Linked DNA regions of Homo sapiens. The protein of the gene in region 1 interacts with the protein of each later gene in a pairwise test. Each region holds a gene or a part of one and is shown in the gene's direction. Other genes may lie near its edges.

Region 1 (3,651 bases):
GACTTTCTGCTTCTGCCACAGAATCACAGTGTCACTGCAGACATCTGAACCTGTTTCCATGTGATTCCTTTGCGTGAAAATCACAGTCATGTCCTTTGCCTATCTCAGAACATTTTAGCAAAGATAGCTAAGATATTATCTATAAAATTTGTAGGTAGAAGACTCTATAAGCACCTAGTATCATTACTTAGCCTTATTAATATCAATGGTAATTCTGTGACCAAATTATAGTTATTAAATATGCACTGCCACCATTTTATCATTATCATTATTTATAATTATAATAATTTGAGAAGTTGACAGATTATGGAATACTGTTTTATCTTAGGACGAGATATTCTTATATCTTTTGACAACCCAGAGAGAGACTTTCTTCTCTTAGTGGTAAGAAATTCTAACAGAAGGCCAGGAACAGTGGCTCACACCTGTAATCCCAACTCTTTGAGAGGCCAAAGCAGGAGAATTGTTTGAGCCCAGGAGTTGGAGAGCAGCCTGGGCAACATGGGGAAACCCCATCTCTACAAAAAAATCCAAAAATTAGCTGGATGTGGTGGCACATACCTGTAGTCCTAGGTACTCGGGAGACTGAGGTGGGAGGATCACCTGAGCCTGGGAGGCGGAGGCTGCATTGAGCTGTGATGGTGCCACCACACTCCAGCCTGGGTGACAGAGCAAATCCTGTCTTGAAAAAAATAAAGGGTTAGGTGGGAGGAGAGAAAGAGAGAGAGGAAGGGAAGGAGGAAGTTCCAACAGTGAGCCAAGCTTCCAGGGATGGAGAGCAGTGCCCACCCCCAATGCTGCTTCTCTGGGTCCTTAGACAAGGCTGTAACAGTACTTCCAGGCAGACCTCTGTCACAGGCCGCTCTGAAGATTGTTTCTCCAAAGGGCTGATTGTATGTCGTAATTCGAGTGTAACTTAATCTTATTTGATGGAGCTTTGTTCACAAAGCAAGTGGCCTGAAAACTAGTTCTTTGCATTCTAATGAGAGTCTTTGGTTTTCAGTCAGAAGCGATTTGACATCTTTATGCTCCTCTCCCTTTGTTGTGGAAAAAAAACATCCTTTCCCAAGCATGTGATACATCTCGAATTTAACCTGGAGTCACTTAAGTCTGGACATGGCTTGTAGGATGTTTTATTGTTCTTCATTTTCCCCTTTTAGGTGAATCGTGACTACAGTTTTAGTCATTCTATCTCTAATAACTGATTGAAAGACACCATTTTTTTAAGAATTCAGAAGAAATCTACATTAAAAAATCTACATTATGTTATTGACTATCTTTGCTATTTTCTGGGGAAATGTATGAAAGAAAGTGGAAGGGCAAATAAGTCCGACAGCACTCACTTTCCCCATAGAGTTTTATGACCCTGAAACAGGCCAATTAACAACCCTTTGGTATACCTCCCCAAATTTCTTATTTATACAATTGGTTAATTAATGGTTTACACTGATCTGTATTGTACTTAATGTATCTGGAAAGCTGCAAGCCTGTGGTTCTTAAGTTCTACTTTTATATGCACTGATGTTCCATGAGTGACCAGCGTGTTCCGGTGCTAATAACTTTTCCCAGTTCTCAGGAATTTAATTTAATGAATGGAATGCTTAAGGCCTTTTTCCCAGAAAACAATTCTAGATCTTTGGCTTTGTTATACGTATCATAATCTAGTGAAAAATGTCATTTTGTGTGGGCTAGAATTTTCTATTCAGTTATTTTAATTACTTCTAGTGTTTTAAGTAGTTTCCAGGTTCTCTGCCACCCAAAAAACTTTGAAAATCACTTGTCATTGCTGTACAAACTACATTTCACAGATGCTCTGAAGATGTTTTTATATCTCATCTCCCTTGGAAGTTTTTAGTTGTCTCAAAGGAAGGCAGACAACATCATAAAGAGTGATGCATATGTCATTTTTGATAACATACCACTTCCCAACATTTCACCTCTGTCTTTTATCTTTTCCCTATTTTTCTTTATATTTTCATTTTTCTGTCATTAATTGAATATCTACTATTGCCAATCATATGCTAATCCTCACATCAATTATGCCGATGAAGACACAAAGAATCAATTATGCTAAGTAGCTCACCTTAGGTCCCATAAGTAATAAATGCCAAGGTCAAGAGGATTCCCCTCAAAGACCATAAATTTCCATCTTCCTGTATTGCTTCTTTCTTTCTCCTCTACCACATGCTCTCCTTTGCCTTTCCCTTTTTTCTCTATTTAATTGTAGTAAAATACACATAACAAAATTTACCATATTATCCATTTTTAGGTGTGCAGTTTAGTGACATTAAGTACATCCATATTGTATAACCATCAACATGATCTATCCTCAAAACTCTTTCTAACTTGCAAAACTGAAACTATACCCATTAAATAACTCCCATTCCCGTCCTCCCACCGGCCACTGGCAACCACTCTTCTCCTTTCTCTCTCTGTGAATTTAACTACTAGTCTAGGACCTCAGATGTGTAGAATCAACTAGTAATTATCTTTTTGTGTCTGGCTTATTTTACTTGACATAATGTCCTCTGAGTTCATACATGTTGTAGCATGTGTCAAAATTTCCTTCCTTTTTAAGGCTGAATTAATATTCCATTGTATGTGTATACCACATTTTGTTTGTCTGTTCATTCACTGATAGATACGTGGGTGGCTCTCACCTTCTAGCTGTTGTGAATAGTGCTGCTGTGAACATAGGTGCACTGCCTTTCATTTTGAGTACACTTCCTCCCTCATCTTCTACATAAATTATAGGCTCGTTTGTGGTACCCACTGACATTGCTTAATCCCGGTGACAACACTGAGACCTAGAAAATGCCTGCCTAACTGTGGAAGCTGTGGACTGTTTCACTGATTTTTCTTGTCAGCGTATTTCCCCGCCTTGGTTTTGCCTTTCTTCTCAAGTTAGATTTTGCATGGTAATGAATGCATATTCTGTCATTTTCTCCTAAGTCCATAGATTTCTGTCTTTTGCTACCCTTGATGGAACTCCAATGGAACTCTAAAAACCTTCAGAGGAGTTGTAGAAGAGCCAATCAACATGTGTGTGTTGAATGCAAGAGATGAGGCAAGGTGTATTAGTCCGTTTTCATGCAGCTGATAAAGACATACCTGAGACTGAGAAGAAAAAGAAGTTTAATTGCACTTACAGTTCCACATGGCTGGGGAGGACTCAGAATCATGGTGGGAGGCAAAAGGCACTTCTTTTTTTTTTTTTTTTTTTTTGAGATGGAGTCTTGCTCTGTCACTCAGTCTGGAGCACAGTGGCATGATCTCAGCTCACTGCAACCTCTGCCTCCCAGGTTCAAGCAATTTCCTGCCTCAGCCTCCTGAGTAGCTGGGATTACAGGCATGCGCTACCACGCCTGGCTAATTTTTGTATTTTTAGTGGAGATGGGGGTTTCACCATGTTGGCCAGGCTGGCCTCGAACCCCTGACCTTGTGATCCACTGTCCTCAGCCTCCCAAAGTGCTGAGATTACAGGCGTGAGCCACCGCATCCAGCTGAAAGGCACTTCTTACCTGGTGGCGGCAAGAGAAAATAAGGAAGATGCAAAAGCGGGAACCCCTGATGAAACCATCAGATCTCATGATACTTATTCACTATGATGAGGACAGTATGGGGGAAGCTGCCCCCATGATTCAAATTATC
Region 2 (3,650 bases), on another chromosome or scaffold:
ACACATCTGAACAGACACCTCACCAAAGAAGATCTACAGATGGCAAGTAAACACATTGAAACCACAATGTGGTTACAATTGAAAACCACAATGAGATAGCACAGCTGGTCTATATCTGTTAGAATTGCTAAACTCTTTTAAAAATGACAAATTGCTGAAGGAAAAACAAGAACTCTTTTCATTGCCAGTGGAACACAGCATATAAGACCAAAATACGCCACCCCAAAACCTAACCCTAACCCTAACCCCTAACCCCTAACCAACCCTAACCCTAACCCTAACCCTAACCCCTAACCCCTAACCCTAACCCTAACCCTAACCCTAACCCTAACCCCTAACCCCTAACCCTAACCCTAACCCTAACCCTAACCCTAACCCCTACCCCTAACCCCTAACCCTTACCGGTGACCCTACTGTATCCCTGACTCCTAACCAACATTGATCCCTAACCCTAAACCCCTTACTGTAACTATAATCTTCATCCCACCCTATCCCTAGCCTTAGTGCCATCCCCCAGGCTTTTTCCAGGATGGGATTTTATGTGATTGTTTCGAATAGGTGGAAATCTCTGCTCATTTAGGAGTCGTTCAATGTAACAAGGATCTTGGTCTTCACAGAGACCCTAAACGCGTGTGGCCCAGGGTCATGTGGATGCCATCAGCCACTAGGTGGCAGCAGGGGCCCTTTGGATTTGAACAATGCAGCTCAGTCAGAGGGCTGGACTGGGACACCCCTACTCATGGTCTCTCTTGGCATGGTTTTGTTTGGTGACTCCAGGTGTCCCAACCTCCTGTGTCCATTGTAATATGTCCTGGGACCATCTCCCCCAGGGCCTTCAACCTCTCCTTGCTATCCTGGCTACTGATGGAAGATGTACCTCAAGCCTGTCCCATTCCTCACTTCCTGCTGAGACCTGGCCCCAACATGGCCAGCTCTATGTTCCTCAGACCCTCTCAGGCCACCTTCTCTCTTCTAGGCACTGTCACTGGGCTTCTCCCCACCCCATAGATCCACAGCCCCCAGGTAGTCCTACAGCTGTGTCCACTCGTGCAGCCTGCACCCCCTTCCCCTACTCGGCCACCCCATCTGAGTAGTAAGGGGCCCCTGCCTGATTGGAGACCCCCAGATGCAGACCCAGATCACACAGCACACTGATAAGAGGAGGGATTCCCACCTTAAAAGAAAGGCGTGGGACCAACCCCAGATCCCACCACTCTCGGCCTCAAGGGCAGGCATGACTAGAGGCCCTTGGTGGCCAGGACCCACTGCCTTCTTCACCGATCAGTTGGCATGGCCTCTCACCAGTGTTCCCTCCTAACACACCTGTTCTCTCTCTCACACACCCTAAAGCCGCTTGCCAACCACCTGTCACACAGCCACTCCATGCCTGTTGCTGCTTGGCACCCACTGGGGGCCAGGGATGTGAACAAACCTCATCTAAGCTGGCTGCCGGGTCCTAATGGGCAGGTCCGGTCCGCCCTCTAGGAGAGGTGCTGTCCGGTGAGGCATAAAATCCCGGGATTCTGGCTGGAGGCAGCTCCTGAGACTGCCGGCATGAAGGGGAGCCGTGCCCTCCTGCTGGTGGCCCTCACCCTGTTCTGCATCTGCCGTGAGTCTGTGCCACTGGGGTTTCCAGAACATTCAGGGGCGGGGGGGAGTGGGGGGTACCTGAGAAGGTAAAATCCTGGCATCGGGCCTCTGCAGTGAACACTCCACCTGCTTCTGTCACAGAAGTGGGCAAGGACCCTGCAGAACCCGCGCCCACCCTACTCCACCCCAACCAAGGACAAAGCCCAGCTGACCCAACACCAGCCCAGTGTCTCCTACCCCAGCCCAGTCCAGCCTGACCTGACCCTTCAAGCCTCTGGTCATAATAGCCTCTCATCAGGGGAAATTTCCCCCACACCAGGAGCTTAACTTTCCTTCCCTGGTGATCCCAGGGAATGCTGAGTGGAAATTGGAGCAGCTAAGATTAAGGGGGATGTGGAGGGGTCTTCGGGCAAGGTGGAGTTGGAGGTGTTGTGGAGGAAGCCCTGGGGAGGAGAGGTGAGCATTGAAGGGGAAGGTCTGGAGACCATGGAGGTTAGAGCCCTGGGGCAGGTCCAGGGCTGTGGTTGCACCAGAGTCACCCTGTCCTGTCCTGGCATCATCTCGCTCGTGATGCAGGGATGGCCACGGGGGAGGACAACGATGAGTTTTTCATGGACTTCCTGCAAACACTACTGGTGGGGACCCCAGAGGAGCTCTATGAGGGGACCTTGGGCAAGTACAATGTCAACGAAGATGCCAAGGCAGCAATGACTGAACTCAAGTCCTGCAGAGATGGCCTGCAGCCAATGCACAAGGCGGAGCTGGTCAAGCTGCTGGTATGAGGGCGGCGGGCACCCCATTTTCTAAAGATCTGCAGCCTTACCAAGACCACCCAACACAGCACCCACACAGCCTACCCCACCCACAGACATCCACCACCCACAGACATTGCACCCGCATCAGCCAGCTCAGGTGGACACCCCAGACCTCCTGTCCACCGAGCAGCCCCCAGACTCCATAGACCTCCTCCCCAGTCTGTGGGATACTCCTCCATGCACACATGTGAACATACACAGAGATCCAAACACAGGTGCAGACATGAAATGTACACTGCGTGCACACATGTATAAACACGTTCACACCCACATGCTCACACTGGGATATGCACACACATACATGTGTGCACACCATCACATGTGCACACACACCTCCCAGCTGCTGGGAGGAGATAGGCAGCAATATGCCAGACCCCCCCCCCACTGAGGGCCTTGCTTGCCTGATGGAGCTGTGGCTCTCCACTTATTGAGCACAGCCCTCTTAGTCCACATGTGTCTGCCTTCCAGGTGCAAGTGCTGGGCAGTCAGGACGGTGCCTAAGTGGACCTCAGACATGGCTCAGCCATAGGACCTGCCACACAAGCAGCCGTGGACACAACGCCCACTACCACCTCCCACATGGAAATGTATCCTCAAACCGTTTAATCAATAAAGCCTCTTCCGCAGCTCAGGCTCCTGTCTCTGCCCCCACAGAGGGGCACACAAATGGGGACATCAGGAACACACTCGAGGCCACAGCCACACACACAGACCCACATACAGAGGATCCCACTCAAGGAGCACACGTGCAAAAGTCCCCACAGAGGGACACACAAATGGGGACATCAGGAACACAGGGCCACAGCCACACACACAGACCCACATACAGAGGATCCTACTCAAGGAGCACACGTGCGAAAGTCCCCCACAGAGGGACACACAAATGGGGACATCAGGAACACAGGGCCACAGCCACACACACAGACCCACACACAGAGGATCCCACTCAAGGAGCACACATGCGAAAGTCCCCACAGAGGGGCACACAAGTGGGGACATCAGGAACACAGGGCCACAGCCACACACACAGACCCACACACAGAGGATCCCACTCAAGGAGCACACGTGCGAAAGTCCCCACAGAGGGGCACACAAATGGGGACATCAGGAACACACTCAGGGCCACAGCCACACACACAGACCCACATACAGAGGATCCCACTCAAGAAGCACAAGTGCGAAAGTCCCCACAGAGGGGCACACAAATGGGGACATCAGGAACACACTCGGGGCCACAGCCACACA
Region 3 (3,651 bases), on another chromosome or scaffold:
GCAGGACTGTGGGTCCTCTCCCTACTGCGGGATTTGGAGAGACCTGAGACTCCCCCAGCCTGTCTGCTGTAGCCGTCAGCGCCTGTGAAGGGGTGGTGTGTGCAGCTGGGTGGGGTGGCGGGGATAGGTTCTCAGTTCTGCTCCCCGGTCAGTGCTGGTCTTGGCTCTGGGCCACTGCCCCACCTGCACCTGGCCGCCTGGCTGTAAACACGGCTCGCAGATGCCAGCTTCTCTCAACCCCTCTCCGCAGGCCGCCTCCCTCTGTCAGGCTGCGGGAACTCCTCCGTGTAGCCTCCACGAGAGGCCACGTGCCCTCCTGCCTCTCCTCATGGCCGCTGGCCCTAGAGTAGACTCATTTCAGGAATGAGTGGGGTCTGGCCCGCAGCCCAGTCTGGCGGCTTCCAGTGCCCCTCAGAGGTTAGGCCACTTCTTCCAGGAGTGCTTTAGTGAGGGGGAGGGAGGGAGACGTACAGGCACCTGCAGAAATCTCAGCGGCCTCTGCTTCTCCCTCGCTCCAGCCCCCAGACAGAGGTGGGGCCTGGCTTAGCCCTGTGCCCCTCGGGGAGGTGCACGGAGCTGGGCGGCCTCAGGCCCCTCCTGCCCCGGGGCAGCCCTCACCTGGGCTACCTTGGAGGAGGCACCGTAGGGGAGACCACCTGCAACCTCTTCCCCGAAGGGCCCTGCGCTTCGTCACGGGCCCCTGAATGTGGGGACCTCTGTGCTAACGGGGCGTTTTCTGCGGTTTCCAGTGTTTCATGCCCTGCATCTCTGGAAAGCCCTGGTGGGAATCGAGGTTCTCCTGGAGGGCCCCTAATGGCGGGAGCTGTGAGGGGCTGTGCCGCCAGGTGCCTGTTCCCCAGTGGCTCCCAAAGCTGGTCTGTGGGAAGTGCGGCTGGACAGGCCCAGGGCACAGCGCACGGGCCTGGGGCATTCACGGTGTTCTCCTTCCGCCTGCAGGGAGTGAGGATTCTTTGGACACCAGCCTGAGAGCTCACGGGGTCCATGCCACTAAGCATGTGCCCGAGAAGCGGCCCCTGCCCATTCGGAGGAAGAGAAGCATCGGTGAGTCCAGGAGGCCGCGATGGGCAGGGCAGGGCCGGGTCAGGGTGAGTCCAGGAGGCCGCGATGGGCAGGGCAGGGCCGGGTGGGGAGGAGCTGCCCGCTCTCCCAGCGCAGTGGCCTCAGGCAAGCCACCCGTTCCCTCCTCCCTAAAATAGGCCTGGCCCTGGTGCCTCTGGCTCTGGCCTCTCCCGAGGCCTCCCTCCTTCGAGGGTGTCTCCTGCCCCAGCCCGCCTGCTCCTCCTGGAGTCCTGGTCTGGGCCAAGAGAGCTTCCAGGAGAGAAGAGCCATCATAAATTCCTTAAGCGCCCTGTCTTGTCGGGGCCTGTCCCCAGGAGCCTTGCCGGAAACGTGGTCGCGCCTAATTTCCAATTCGCAGTGTGGGCATCGTGCTCCTGCGCCGGCTGCTGAACTGGTGGGGACGCGCGTGCTGTGTCCGGCGGCTGCCCCCCGACACCCTCACCACACCCGTGTGCCCCGCCCCACTCACACCTGGCTCCAGGGCTCCACCCCCGCGTCCATTTGGGGGATATTTTGTCCCTTCTTACAGGACAGCCCCATGGCCCTCCAGCCCCCTGAGGAGGAACTAGCAGGTTTGGGGAGTTCAGGGGCCAGTCCCTGCTTTCTACCCAAGTCCCGCGTCCTCGGGGGTCCCACCTGATGGGTTTGAGCCCTGGTGCTGCTCATGGCTCTGGGGCCCTGAGCAGGTGGACCCCCCTCTCTGAGCTGTGGTTTCCTCCATGAAGATGGATTTTGTATCTTCCACCTTAAAGTGTCATGTGTGGCTGGCTAGTCCCAGCTGATGCAAGCAGGCCCTCCCCAGGTGACATTTGCTGTGGGGTCTGCATTTTGCACCCTTCAGACCACTTTTGAAGGCTAGAGCATGCAGCAAGTGCTGTAGGATTCACTGTTAAGGCCCCCTCCTCCCCCAGCCACTGGCCCCACCTGGACTAGGTTCCCCTCTGCCCCTGCCACCCCCAGTCTCTGGCCCCACCTGGACTAGGTTCCCCTCTCCCCACCCCCAGTCTCTGGCCCCACCTGGACTAAGTTCCCCTCTCCCCACCCCCAGCCACTGGCCCCACCTGGACTAAGTTCCCCTCCCCTCCGAGCCACTGGCCCCACCTGTCCAGGTCCCTCCAGCCTGCAGGCACCGGGCTGGGCTCCTCTGGATGTGTGGTGCTCCTGCCCACCCAGCCCCTAAGCCTCTGCTCCCAGCTCAGCCTCTGCTGCCTGGGAGGAATCCTGGCCTGTGGCTTACCCTGGTTGCCCCCCAGGCCCAGCTGGAGCCGCCTCAGCCCTGGGGTGGGGCCGTGGTCGCAGAGGCCGGTCCCCGCTCACTGTGCCCCCGCCGTTGCAGAGGAAGCTGTCCCCGCTGTCTGCAAGACCAGGACGGTCATTTACGAGATTCCTCGGAGTCAGGTCGACCCCACGTCCGCCAACTTCCTGATCTGGCCCCCGTGCGTGGAGGTGAAACGCTGCACCGGCTGCTGCAACACGAGCAGTGTCAAGTGCCAGCCCTCCCGCGTCCACCACCGCAGCGTCAAGGTGAGCCCTCCCCTCCCCTCCCCTCCCCTCCCCTCCCCTCCTCTCCTCTCCCCTCCCCTCCTCTCCTCTCCCCTCCCCTCCTCTCCCCTCCCCTCCCCTCCCCACCCAAGCCCGGGGCCGCCCCTACCAAGCAGCCAGGGTCCCTCCTGCATCCACCACCACAGCGTCAAGGTGAGCCCTGCCCCTCCCCTCCTCTCCCCTCCCCTCCCCTCCCCTCCCCACCCGAGCCCAAGGGCCGCCCCTACCTAGCAGCCAGGGTCCCTCCCGCGTCCACCACCGCAGCGTCAAGGTGAGCCCTGCCCCTCCCCTCCCCTCCCCACCCGAGCCCGGGGCCGCCCCTACCAAGCAGCCAGGGTCCCTCACGCATCCAACACTGCAGCATCCAGGTGAGCCCTGCCCCACGCAGGCCTGAGGGTCGCCCCTACTGGGTTGCCAGGGTCCCTCCTGGGAGGCCACAAGGTGCCCCTGGTGTGGCTGGTGGGGGTGCACGGCTGCGCTCCCATCTCCCTGGCAGGTACACTGAGGCCCAGGGAGGAGAAGGAGCACCTGGGGGTGCGGGAAAGGCAGGGCCGGCCGGGGCTTCTGCTCTGCTGCTCTGGCGACGAGCCTGGCCTCCTTTCCACGCCCTAGACCACAGTGCGGGGGCCGTTTTGGGCCTTGCGAGGTGTCGAGCTGCTTAGCCGGAAGCTGTCTGGCGTCCCCGGGCCCTGGAGGGTCCTGTGCGGGCTCTTCAGTGGGGGCCGAGGTGCATGGCAGGAGGAGTAGGGGGTGGATATTCAGAGCCTGCATTGCCTTTTGAAGTGCCTGACCTTTGGAGGGCCCCCCCGGCTTCCCCCCTAAAGCAGCCCAGGAGAAGGAGAAGGAGTGCTTGGGGTGGGCTCGAGGCCAGACAGCAGACTTCCTTCCATAGAATCCCAGGGTGAGCCCCTCTTTCTTTAAGTTGGGGGTGGTGCCTGCCTTCTTCAGGCTGCTTTAGCAGAATTCCATCCACTAGGAGCTGATTAGCAACAAATGTATTTCTCAAAGTTCTGGAGGCTGGAAGTCCAA

Evidence for each region.
Region 2: the proteins of ASPH (region 1) and SCGB1C2 interact in binary tests that used the Homo sapiens proteins (3 or more experiments, as listed by UniProt).
Region 3: the proteins of ASPH (region 1) and PDGFA interact in binary tests that used the Homo sapiens proteins (3 or more experiments, as listed by UniProt).

Annotation. Positions count from the first base shown.
Region 1 is NC_000008.11:61,505,068-61,508,718, reverse strand, and holds part of ASPH (aspartyl/asparaginyl beta-hydroxylase), read left to right. Parts: intron 1-3,651.
Region 2 is NC_000017.11:136,037-139,686, forward strand, and holds SCGB1C2 (secretoglobin family 1C member 2 precursor), read left to right. Parts: upstream 1-1,532; 5' UTR 1,533-1,554; coding exon 1,555-1,609; intron 1,610-2,166; coding exon 2,167-2,366; intron 2,367-2,873; coding exon 2,874-2,906; 3' UTR 2,907-3,031; downstream 3,032-3,650.
Region 3 is NC_000007.14:509,762-513,412, reverse strand, and holds part of PDGFA (platelet-derived growth factor subunit A isoform 2 preproprotein), read left to right. Parts: intron 1-957; coding exon 958-1,062; intron 1,063-2,416; coding exon 2,417-2,604; intron 2,605-3,651.